Linked DNA regions of Homo sapiens: region 1 is linked to region 2. Evidence: fine-mapped expression QTL. A gene starts in region 2. The other region holds a variant in brackets. All regions are shown on one strand. Distances are from middle to middle.

Region 1 (5,379 bases), 33 kb after region 2:
GAGTGCAAAAATGTGACTAGATCCAGGAAATGGCAAAGCCAAATGATGATTGCAGGACCATAGGTTTCTCAATCAATGTATTAGAGGGAGCTTCCCAACTACCAGACACTTTGGATATGAACTTGAATGAGAAATAGAATCCTTTTGTGTTTGAGTCTTTATTTTGACGTCTAATTGTTAACAGCAGTTTAACCTACCCTACTTACACTTATGGCTTACAAGGCCTGGCATTAACCAGCCTGTCCCTACTCTCAGACCACTTTCCTTGAACCATCTAACCCAAGTTACAACAGTGTCCTTCATGTACACGAGCATCCCAAGTTCTCAGAGTCTTTCCAGGTGCTTCTGTCTCTGCTGTTGCCTTCTAACATCACACGGCTGACTCCTATCACCCACTGGGACTTGGCTTAATTACTAACTCCTCAGAAAAGATTGGTCTGGCCATTCTAATTAAATAGGCCTCTACCTTATGCATACCATTCCCTTACTCTATAGCACTTATCATAAATTAGAATTATACATTATTTATTTGTTTAATATCTGTCTCTTGTATTAGCTCCTTGAGGCTAGAGTCCATGTGTGTAGAGTGTATATATATTTTTTTCTTTTTCAAAATATTCACTTCCTCATCCAATGTGAGGATTTCATATTCCCGCCCTACTGAAGTCAGATGTGGTCATGTAACTTTCTTTGGCCAATGAAATATGAATGTAAATTACATGTGCAGTTTCTGAGAAGCAGCTTTAAGTTCTTTTTTTTTTTGGTGGGGGGGCGGCGCAGGGGGATGGAGTCTCACTCTGTTGCCCAGGCTGGAGTGCAATGGTGCGATCTCGGTTCACTGCAACCTCTGCCTCCTGGGTTCAAGCTATTCTCCTGCCTCAGCCTCTCGAGTAGCCGGGATTACAGGTGAGTGCCACCACGCCTGGCTAATTTTTGTATTTTCAGTAGAGACGGGGTTTCACCACGTTGACCAGGCTGGTCTTGAACTCCTGACCACCCGTGATCCACCCACTTCAGCCTCCCAAAGTGCTGGGATAACAGGCATGAGTCACCATGCCTGGCTGGCTTTAAGTTTTTCATCTGGTTCAACTAACACTATTTCTGCTCAGAGAAAGGAAGGATTAAAAGGGAAAGTCATGAGCTGCTGCTTTTTTTTCTTAAATTGAGGTGAAATTTGCGTAACATAGAAATAACCATTTCAACTTGAATAGCTCTGTAGTAGATAGTACACTTATCAGTTGCTTTTGTTACTAAGTAACTCAGAACAATGTGAGGCTCCTATTGGAAGAAATTCTCAGAGAATTTGGAAATGGAAACTACTAGGAAATGCCCCCTACCTGGTAGATTATACTGGTTGGAGGTCAAGACCCCGATGCCCCATCACCCGGGAGAAGGAGAGAAAGGGAAATCCTGGAATTTACTAAAGATGGCTGGGGTATAAAATTAACTATAAAATAAAACTGGAAAGGAGACACTTTGTATGAATTTAGGGTTTCATTTGAAATTGTAGTTATCCCAAAGAAGGTAAGAATGACCAAGTAACTATTAAAGCTCTAGTTATCAGAATTTTCCCATTGGATTGAAAAGATTTGGAATGAATGACAGATCAGTTTCTTCTCATACACTCCCACTATCAGGTAGCAAAAGGGAGAAAATAGCCATGAAAAGAGAAGAGAGGTATGGAAGTAAGGATTAGTGGTGCTGACTGGCTCTCAGTTTTATTTTAACTTTTAAATCATCCTGTCTTTCATCTAGAGAATAATGATGTTGGGAAAAATTTCCCCATTAGAATAACTTTACCCCAAATAAAGAACAATGAAACTAGCAAACCCTTAGTCAAAATTTGGAGGAACTCACAGCTTGAAGTATTATAAGATTACTATAAATTTCTCCCCAAAGCTATGATTTCTGTTTCACAGAAGAAATATGCCCAATGACTACATGATTAGAAGTTAGAATGGATATCAGTTCCACCCCTTTTTATTTTATAGGTAAGGACACTGAAAACCCCAACTCCACTCAACAGAAATATTTTTGATCCTGGATAGAGTTACTGGGAACATATTCCAATAAATCTTTATGAGTGTATTTTTAACATAAGCATAACTATAAGCTAATTCATTCATATAAATTAGCACTTCTGCCAGTTAATAGGGGAAGAAGAGGGACAGAAATATAAATACATACAATGATCTATTCCTCTCCTCACGAGTTCTATAAATAATATTTCATCATTGAAACAAAACTTATAATACCTCCTGATACTCAAGACAATGATATTTAAAAGTGGAAAAGGCAAAAGGAACCGAAATGGAAGTAAGGTTTCCATGCTTTACTTGAATTAATAAAGTATTGATACATTGACTGCAATAAGTCACATATATATATTATAATATCCAGAGCAACCACTAAGAAAATTATACAAAGATATGTACCAAAAAACACTATAAATAAATCAGTGGAGGCCAGGCACAGTGGCTCACAGCTG[T/C]AATTCCAGCACTTTGGGAGATTGAGGCGGGTGGATCACTTGAAGTCAGTTTGAGATCAGCCTGGCCAACACGGCAAAGCCCCATCTTTACTAAAAATACAAAAAAAAAAATTTAGCCGGACATGGTGATGCACACTTGTAGTCCCACCTACTCAGGAAGCTGAGGCAGGAGAATTGCTTGCACCTGGAGGTGGAGGTTGCAGTGAGCCGAGATGGTGCCACTGCACTCCAGCCTGGGTGATAGAGTGGGACTGTGTCACAAAAACAAACAAACAAATCAAAACAAAACAGAAAACCCTGACACTGGGTAATTCATAAAGAAAAGAGGTTTGGTTGGCTCATGGTTATGCAGACTCTACACTGACATCACTCAGCTTCTGAGGAGGCCTCAGGGAACTTTCAGTATAATGGCAGAAGGTGAGCAGGAAGCAGGCATGTCATGAGGCCAAAGAGGAACAAGTAGGGTTGGGTGGGGGAAATTGCCACATACTTTTAAATGACCAGATCTTGCAAGAACTAGCTCAGAACCACAAAAACAGCACCAAGCTGTGAGGGATCTACCCCCATGACCCAAACACCTCCTACCAGGGCCCAACTCCAGTACTGGGGATTACAATTTAACATGAGATTTGGGCAGGGACAAATACCCAAACTACATCACATTTCTTGCTTTCCAGTCACACTAAGTCTTCTTGAAAGAATAGTCTATGCTCCCTTCTCTACTTTGTTGTTGTATCTTACTTATGGCTGCAAGAAACAGACTACTCAACTAAAAATTTCCCCAAACAAATTGGATTCTATTGACTCGCATAATAAGCTAGGAGATACGTGGCCTCCAGCATTTGTTTAATGCACAATAATATCTTCAGATATGTAAGTTCATTCCTTTCTTTGATTCCCTCATCCTCAGATGGTGTCCTCATGTCTTTAAGAGCATCTCCAGGGATCACATCCTCACACAACTACTTAGACAGGAGGAACAGGAGGAACAGGAGACAAGGAAGAAGGCTCTTCTTAATCATTGTTCTCTTTCTTTTCTTTTCTCTTTTTTTTTCAGACAGAGTCTTGCTCTGCCACCAGGCGGGAGTGCAGTGGCATGATCTCAGCTCACTGCAACCTCTGCTTCCCGGGTTCAAGTGATTCCCCTGCCTCAGCCTCCCGAATAGCTGGGACTACAGGCACGCGACACCATGCCTGGCTAATTTTTTTGTATTTTAGTAAAGACAGGGTTTCACCATGTTGGCCAGGATGGTCTCCATCTCCTGACCTTGTGATCTGCCTGCCTTGGCCTACCAAAGTGCTGGGATTACAGGCGTGAGCCACCACACCCGGCCCCCGGCCCTCTTCCTTTTCATCTGTGAGAAAAAGTTCCCTAGCGGTCTTTCTGTAGTTCCCCTTGATCAGATTTAAATCGCATGGCCATCTCTACTAACAAGGAAAACCACAAAAGCATTTTAAGACTCTATCCCAGCAGGAGACTCTGCCTGTAGGGAAGAAGTGAAGAGAGTGGCCCTTGGTAAATTGGCCAAGAGAATTGGCTATGCTCATCATCCTTTTAGTTTAAAGAGACAGCAGTGTCTGGGGAGTGCAGTGGTGGAGCATGCGAACTTTAAGCCCCTTTTCTGTTTGAACCTCCTACAGAATTTTAGCATATTGACTACTTCCTCCTTCCCACAAATTTCTACTGGAACAAGTAATTTCACATCACCCTATCCTAATGTCCCAGTATCTCTGTGCCCCTTTCCATTCAGTCTTGCTTTTCCATCGTGTCTTAAATGTAAATAAGCCTTTTTTTCTTTCTTTCTTTCTTTTTTTTTTTTTTTTTCTAGACAGTCTCGCTCTGTCACCCGGGCTGGAGTGCAGTGGCAAGATCTTGGCTCACTGCAACCTCCACCTCCCAGGTTCACGCAATTCTTCTGCCTCAGCCTCCCAAGTATCTGGGACTACAGGCATGCACTACCATGCCTGGCTAATTTTTGTATTTTTACAACATTTTACAAAAAAAAAACCATGGTTTCGCCATGTTGGCCAGGCTGGTCTCAAACTCCTGAACCTCAGGTGATCTGCCCACCTCGACCTCCCAAAGTGCTGGGATTACAGGTGTGAGCCATAGTGCCCAGCTGTGAATAACCTGTTATCATTCTGCCCTTGGCTCCATTCTCTTCTTGCCCTGTATCAGCCTGTCATGTCCTCTTTAGATTATAGTTGCTTTGAGAAAATGGAAGAAATTACCTTTAAAATGCGCAAACCCATAACATATAGGTGAGTATATAATTTGGGGGAATTTAAAGACCCCCTAAAACCCATCCATCAATCACTTTGGGACTCCCTGATCCATACTCTGGAAGTCCTTGCTCCATGTATTCTCCCTGGACACTCTCAATAATGCCATGTTTTCAACTGCCATCCAACGTCCCTCACATAGGTAGCACCACCTTAGACCTCTTTGTTGAGCTCCAAACTTATAATTTCAACTATGTAGTAAAATCCTTCTCAATGTTTGTTGTAGATGTTTCGTACCGACCTCATCCCAAAATAGACTATCTTTGATCATTATCCCTCCTTGCTCCGGTCTGCTCCTCCCCTTATATTCTTTCTCTATGTTAATAGGATTTTTATCCAAGCAGATAAGTTCTAAGTATTGTCACCTCCCATTTTTTTCCCCTCTCCTACATTCAGCTGGTCTCCATGTCCATTCAAGTGTATTACAAAGGCTCTCTGAAACTTGTCTCCTGTTCTCCATCTCTCCTGCAACATTCTGAATAGATACTTCATTATTTTCTTCCTGGGTTAGCACATCAGACTCATACTAGTGATTCCCTCCTTTAGTCCCCGCTCCATGCTAACACCAGGGATCTCTCACTACAACCAAATTTTAATCACCTTCCAGA
Region 2 (5,322 bases):
ATCTGTACAATGTATCTGTGTTTTAAGGTAGGTGTTATTACAAAAGGGTCGAAAAGTTAAAAAAATTAAAAGTTTATACAGTAAAAAAGTTACAGTAAGCTAAAGTTAATTTATCATTGAAAAAGGAAATTTTTGAATAAATTTAGCTTAGCCTAAGTGTAGTGTTTATAAAGGCTATAGTAGTGTGCAGTTATGTCCAAGGCCTTAACATTCACCCACCACTGACTCACTGACACCCACTGCAAGCTCCATTCACGGTAAGTGCCCTACACAGGTGGACAATTTTTTATCTTTTATACCATATTTTTACTGCACCTTTTCTAAGTTTAGATATGTTTAAATCACAAATACTTACCATTGTATTACAGTTGCCTACAGTATTCAGTGCAGTATATTCTGTACTGTTTGTACGTTTGTAGCCTAGGAGTAATAGACTATATCATACAGCCTAGGTGTGTAGTAGGCTACACCATCCGCATCTGTGTAACTACACTCTATGATGTTCACACAACAATGAAATCACCCAAGGACACATTTCTCCAACAATATCCCCATCATTAAATGGTGTGACTATAATGATTATCCAGTGAGTTATGAGATAAAAGAGATAAGCTCGGCATCCCAGGCCTGCACTGCGGATAACATCTATCCCGGCATGAAGGATTTCAGAGACTATGTCCTGGAGGCAGTGAAGCATGACATGACATGATTATCATCAGATGGTATCACTTTCAATTTACAATTGTTTTAAGATGAAGATCCTCATCCTAGAGCATTTATAGCAGATGATGGAGTGGATGTGTATTGTTTTGCTCACCAAGCTTGCTTTCTTTTTAAGGAACAGTCCTTTCTTCCCAAGAGAACTGCTCTTTCTCTCCATTCCAACCATGAGGTTCTAACTAATCCCCATACTTCACCTTCCTTGTCCCCATTGATTAGTCCAGGGTGAACCCATCCAATTTAATTCCTGGAACTTTTAAAGTTGGGCCTAAGAGACAGGGACATTCCTTCTGTGGTGATAAGGTCATAAAGTAAGAAGATTGGAAGGATCATTTTTCCCTTATGTGGAAGTAATCCTGTTGGCCCTCCTCTCTCTAGATCCCAATTGCCTCTGAGGACTCCCTGTACCATTCCTGTGCTGTCACTATGTGAAACATCACAGCATCCTTCCAGTAAAGTCCTCTTTTCGCAAAAACTAGTTCAAGTTTGGTTTCCATCTCTTGCAATCAAAACTGAATAGCAATTTTACACTTGCAGTGACTTCTTGACATGTTAATCCTTGTCTTAAAGTTACATTTTCCCTGTCACCACTCCCACCCCACTCTTTCCAAGAAGAGCTAGCCCAATCTCCATGTTGCCAATTTCTCCTTGTTCTATCTGAGTCTATTCATGCTTGGAACACTTGGCCGATGCTCTTTGCCTCCCCATTAGCAGTGCTTCTAGTTGCTCCATTTCAAAGTACATTAAAATGCTGTCTACCAAGAGCCACCACCAGAGAATCCTACTGAGTGGGTCAAGAGTGGGGCTCAGGAATCTGTATTTTTAACAAAATACATGCTGGTTGATTCGATCTGCAGCCAGATGGAGGCATCATTAGGCCAAATGGCTTACAAAACCTATCAGTTTTTTTGTTTTTTGTTTTATCTTTTTCTTAAACTTTTATTTCAAGTTCAGGGGTAAATGTGCAGGTTTGTTTACACAGGTAAATGTGTGTCATGGACATTTGTTGTGCAGATTATTTCATCGCCCAGGTATTAAGCCTGGTACCCATTAGTTATTTTTCCCGATCTTCTCCCTGCTCCCACCCTCCACCCTCCAAAGCCTATCAATTTGAAGAGTAGGTAAATGTCCTACTCAAGAGTGCAAATGAACTGTTTCATCTCTAGTTAAGTTTGAGTACTACTCAGTCTCATTTACCTCAAAGAAAGCAGAACTATTAGAGGCTTGGAAGTGTGTCATAGTGGTTTCAGGCTGCCGAGAGAATTATCTAGAAGGGGCTTGAGGTGACCTCATCATCTGCGGGTGTTGCAGAGGCAGACCTGGCCCCTTCCGCAAGCTGCCTTTGATTTCCTTCATGCTGGGGACAGATGAGGTAGAGGCCATTTGTTTCTTTTTAAACTCTAGAATTACATCACAGGCCTGTATAATTTTCCTTAAAAAGTGTTTTTTGTTTTTTTCCAAAGCAACTATCCTCAAAAGAGCTGGGCATAGTTCTCCTAGGGGCAGCACCAGTGTTGAAGTGTGGGGGGAAACTGTTCTAAATCCTTCAAACAATGTCACCTTTGGAGCAGTAAAACTGCTCCCTTTTTCCCATGAGAGATGACAAGCATGCCCCAGCAATCATTTCTTGAAAGCGGATGCCCGGTGAGAGAAGGATTTGATTTGCTGAAGGGTCAGCCAAGTTAAGCCAGTTTCTTCCTCATTTCTTCCCTGGCTGGAGGTTTTGATGGTGGTGATGGTGGTTGAACTGAACCCACTTAGAAAACTGTCAAAGGTTTCTGGACTCTCAGGTGTGCCGTCTCACATTTGGTCTGCTACAGCAGGTGCTTCAAGGCTTTCTTCTGCCAAGATTTCTTTGTTTTATTTTATGATGTTTTCTTTATGTGTGTGTGTGTGTGTGTGTGTGTGTGTGTGTGTGTGTGTTTTACTTTTATTTCTAACAAACCTGTGGACCTTGGGGTTTAAGACTGAGTGAAGCTAGAAGGATTAGAGTCAAAAGAATTTTGCCATTTGGCCAATAGCATTCCCCACCTCCTGACATATCGATTTTTTTTCTAGATTCCCTTCCCCCTGCCACTCCCCTCCCCCCAACACACACACACTTTTCTCTTTCTCCTCTTTCTCTCCTTTCCTCCCTTGCTTCTCTCCCCTCCCTCTCAACACATTCAATGAGTGCCCTAAACGGTGACAAACTTGCATGTGCTTCCCTCATGACTAAACCCCTGGGCCTTCTGCCAATCCCCTGCAGATGGCCCCAAACTGCAGGCATCCCGTAAGGGGACCCCACGCTTGCAGCCCTGGTTGGAACGGTCAGGGTGGAGGAGGATGGTGGGGAGTGGTGGTGTCTTCGTCCTGGGAGAAGGCGAAGCAACTTCCAGGAGGAAACGGGCGTTTCCTTCCCACGCGCTCGAGCGAGCCCTGGGTCCTGGCCTCGGAACTCCACCCAGCCCCTCCCCACCCTCTGGGAAAAGCCAGTCGCCACACACAGGCACACGCAGGCCCCGGCGCCGCGCCCTAAGGAGAGCAGCACCCACAGCCAATTGCCATGGCAACCCCGGGGTTCGTTCCACTTCCCCACCCAGCCGATCTCCCCCCTCCTCCCTGCACTGCAGCCAACCGGCTTGTGCGCGTCCCAGGAGCGCGCTATAAAACCTGTGCTGGGCGTGATCGGCAAGCACCGGACCAGGGGGAAGGCGAGCAGTGCCAATCTACAGCGAAGAAAGTCTCGTTTGGTAAAAGCGAGAGGGGAAAGCCTGAGCATGCAGAGTGTGCAGAGCACGAGCTTTTGTCTCCGAAAGCAGTGCCTTTGCCTGACCTTCCTGCTTCTCCATCTCCTGGGACAGGTAAGTGGCACACCCTTAAGATGCCCCCAAGTTACTTTGCCCGCCTTGGTGGCCCCCATTTGGTCACCGGGCTCACTGCGTCTTCTGTCCCAGCTGAGTGGTTTCTCCTTGTCTCGCCTGCCTTCAGGTCGCTGCGACTCAGCGCTGCCCTCCCCAGTGCCCGGGCCGGTGCCCTGCGACGCCGCCGACCTGCGCCCCCGGGGTGCGCGCGGTGCTGGACGGCTGCTCATGCTGTCTGGTGTGTGCCCGCCAGCGTGGCGAGAGCTGCTCAGATCTGGAGCCATGCGACGAGAGCAGTGGCCTCTACTGTGATCGCAGCGCGGACCCCAGCAACCAGACTGGCATCTGCACGGGTAATCCTGCTCCCTCTGCTGTTTGACCTCTTCTCCTGCAGCTAAGTGAAGCTGCTTCCTCCCTTCTCTTTTGTATTCCCCTTCCCAGAGGGCGATAAGCAAATAATAATAATGCAATAAATGACATGTATAGAGCACTTACTGTGTGTCAGGCATGGTTTGGGGAGCACTTGGGGCTTTGGGGAGCGCCAGAGCCAGAAAGGAAACCTGCCCTGGGGGTGAAAGGCATTCCTCACTTGGCTTCCTAGACAAGAATCTAAGCAAAGGGGGAGCCACGCAGAGTTAAGGGCCAGTGAAGTCATTTCCTTCGGACACTTCTAGGGGGCCACTTGGGGCTGATGGAAGCTCGGGTTTACTCACACGCTCACAGTTTCCCAAACTGCAGTTGGGGAAAACCCAGCAGGTTTGTTTTCACACCTGTAATTGTCCCATTTGAACCAAAGCAGCTGCTAGTCTCCTGGGATAACTATGTAACCCTTTTCTGGCTGCAAGTAAAATAAAATGCAGGCAACTAGCCAATCCAGGCTTCTAAAACGTAATCAGTCGGGGATCAATTTTTCACATGATACAACATTGTAGTTGAAGATTGTCCCTTCCTTTCTGGACAGGAGGGCTTTTACTTTTTTCTCTAAGCTACTGATGATTTTATTATGCTTGAGTGTCAAGGAATCTTAATGCCCTTCCCAATTTGATCAGCTAACCTGTTGGAAAACATAAAGTACACTTTTTCTCTTTTTAAGTCTAAGCTGCTGGAGTAGGAAACTCTAAGGAGGTTCTCGCAAAATGACTGAACATTGGGAAAAATGGCCAGGGGACCTTGGGGACATCACTTCACAGTTGCACACCTCTTTCCTCATCCATAAAATGAGTGGCAAGACTAGATGATCTTGAAGGTTTCTTCTTGCTCTGAGAGGCCTCCATGAGGACATCACTCTACAGTAGATACATGAGAAACCAGATCGCCTGAACTAGAAAAGGACTTGGGTTTTGGAACATGCCCTCCAAATCTTACATAGCTTCTTCACTGTATTGTGTTCTTGTTTTTCCTCTTCCTCTTTGCTTTTCACTTTGCTTCCCCAATATTCTAGCGGTAGAGGGAGATAACTGTGTGTTCGATGGGGTCATCTACCGCAGTGGAGAGAAATTTCAGCCAAGCTGCAAATTCCAGTGCACCTGCAGAGATGGGCAGATTGGCTGTGTGCCCCGCTGTCAGCTGGATGTGCTACTGCCTGAGCCTAACTGCCCAGCTCCAAGAAAAGTTGAGGTGCCTGGAGAGTGCTGTGAAAAGTGGATCTGTGGCCCAGATGAGGAGGATTCACTGGGAGGCCTTACCCTTGCAGGTGAGAAACTCAATATACCTAGGGCTGGTCATAGTAGAGGGTAAATACAAACATGAAGAATTTGCA

Evidence for each region. PIP is the estimated chance that this variant, and not a neighbour inherited with it, causes the effect.
Region 1: its variant is fine-mapped to the expression of CCN3 in whole blood (TOPMed, PIP above 0.99).

Annotation. Positions count from the first base shown.
Region 1 is chr8:119,445,972-119,451,350 of GRCh38, forward strand. No RefSeq gene overlaps it. Among named protein-coding and RNA genes, the nearest start is that of CCN3, 32 kb to the left of the region's middle. The variant T/C (reference allele first, on the strand shown) is at 2,489.
Region 2 is chr8:119,413,054-119,418,375 of GRCh38, forward strand. It overlaps CCN3 (cellular communication network factor 3), which reads left to right and starts at 3,393. Exons shown (of 5, transcript NM_002514.4): 1 at 3,393-3,563; 2 at 3,691-3,916; 3 at 5,005-5,256. The coding sequence starts at 3,480. It overlaps LOC124902009 (a long non-coding RNA gene), which reads right to left and starts at 3,256. Exons shown (of 2, transcript XR_007061077.1): 1 at 1,918-3,256.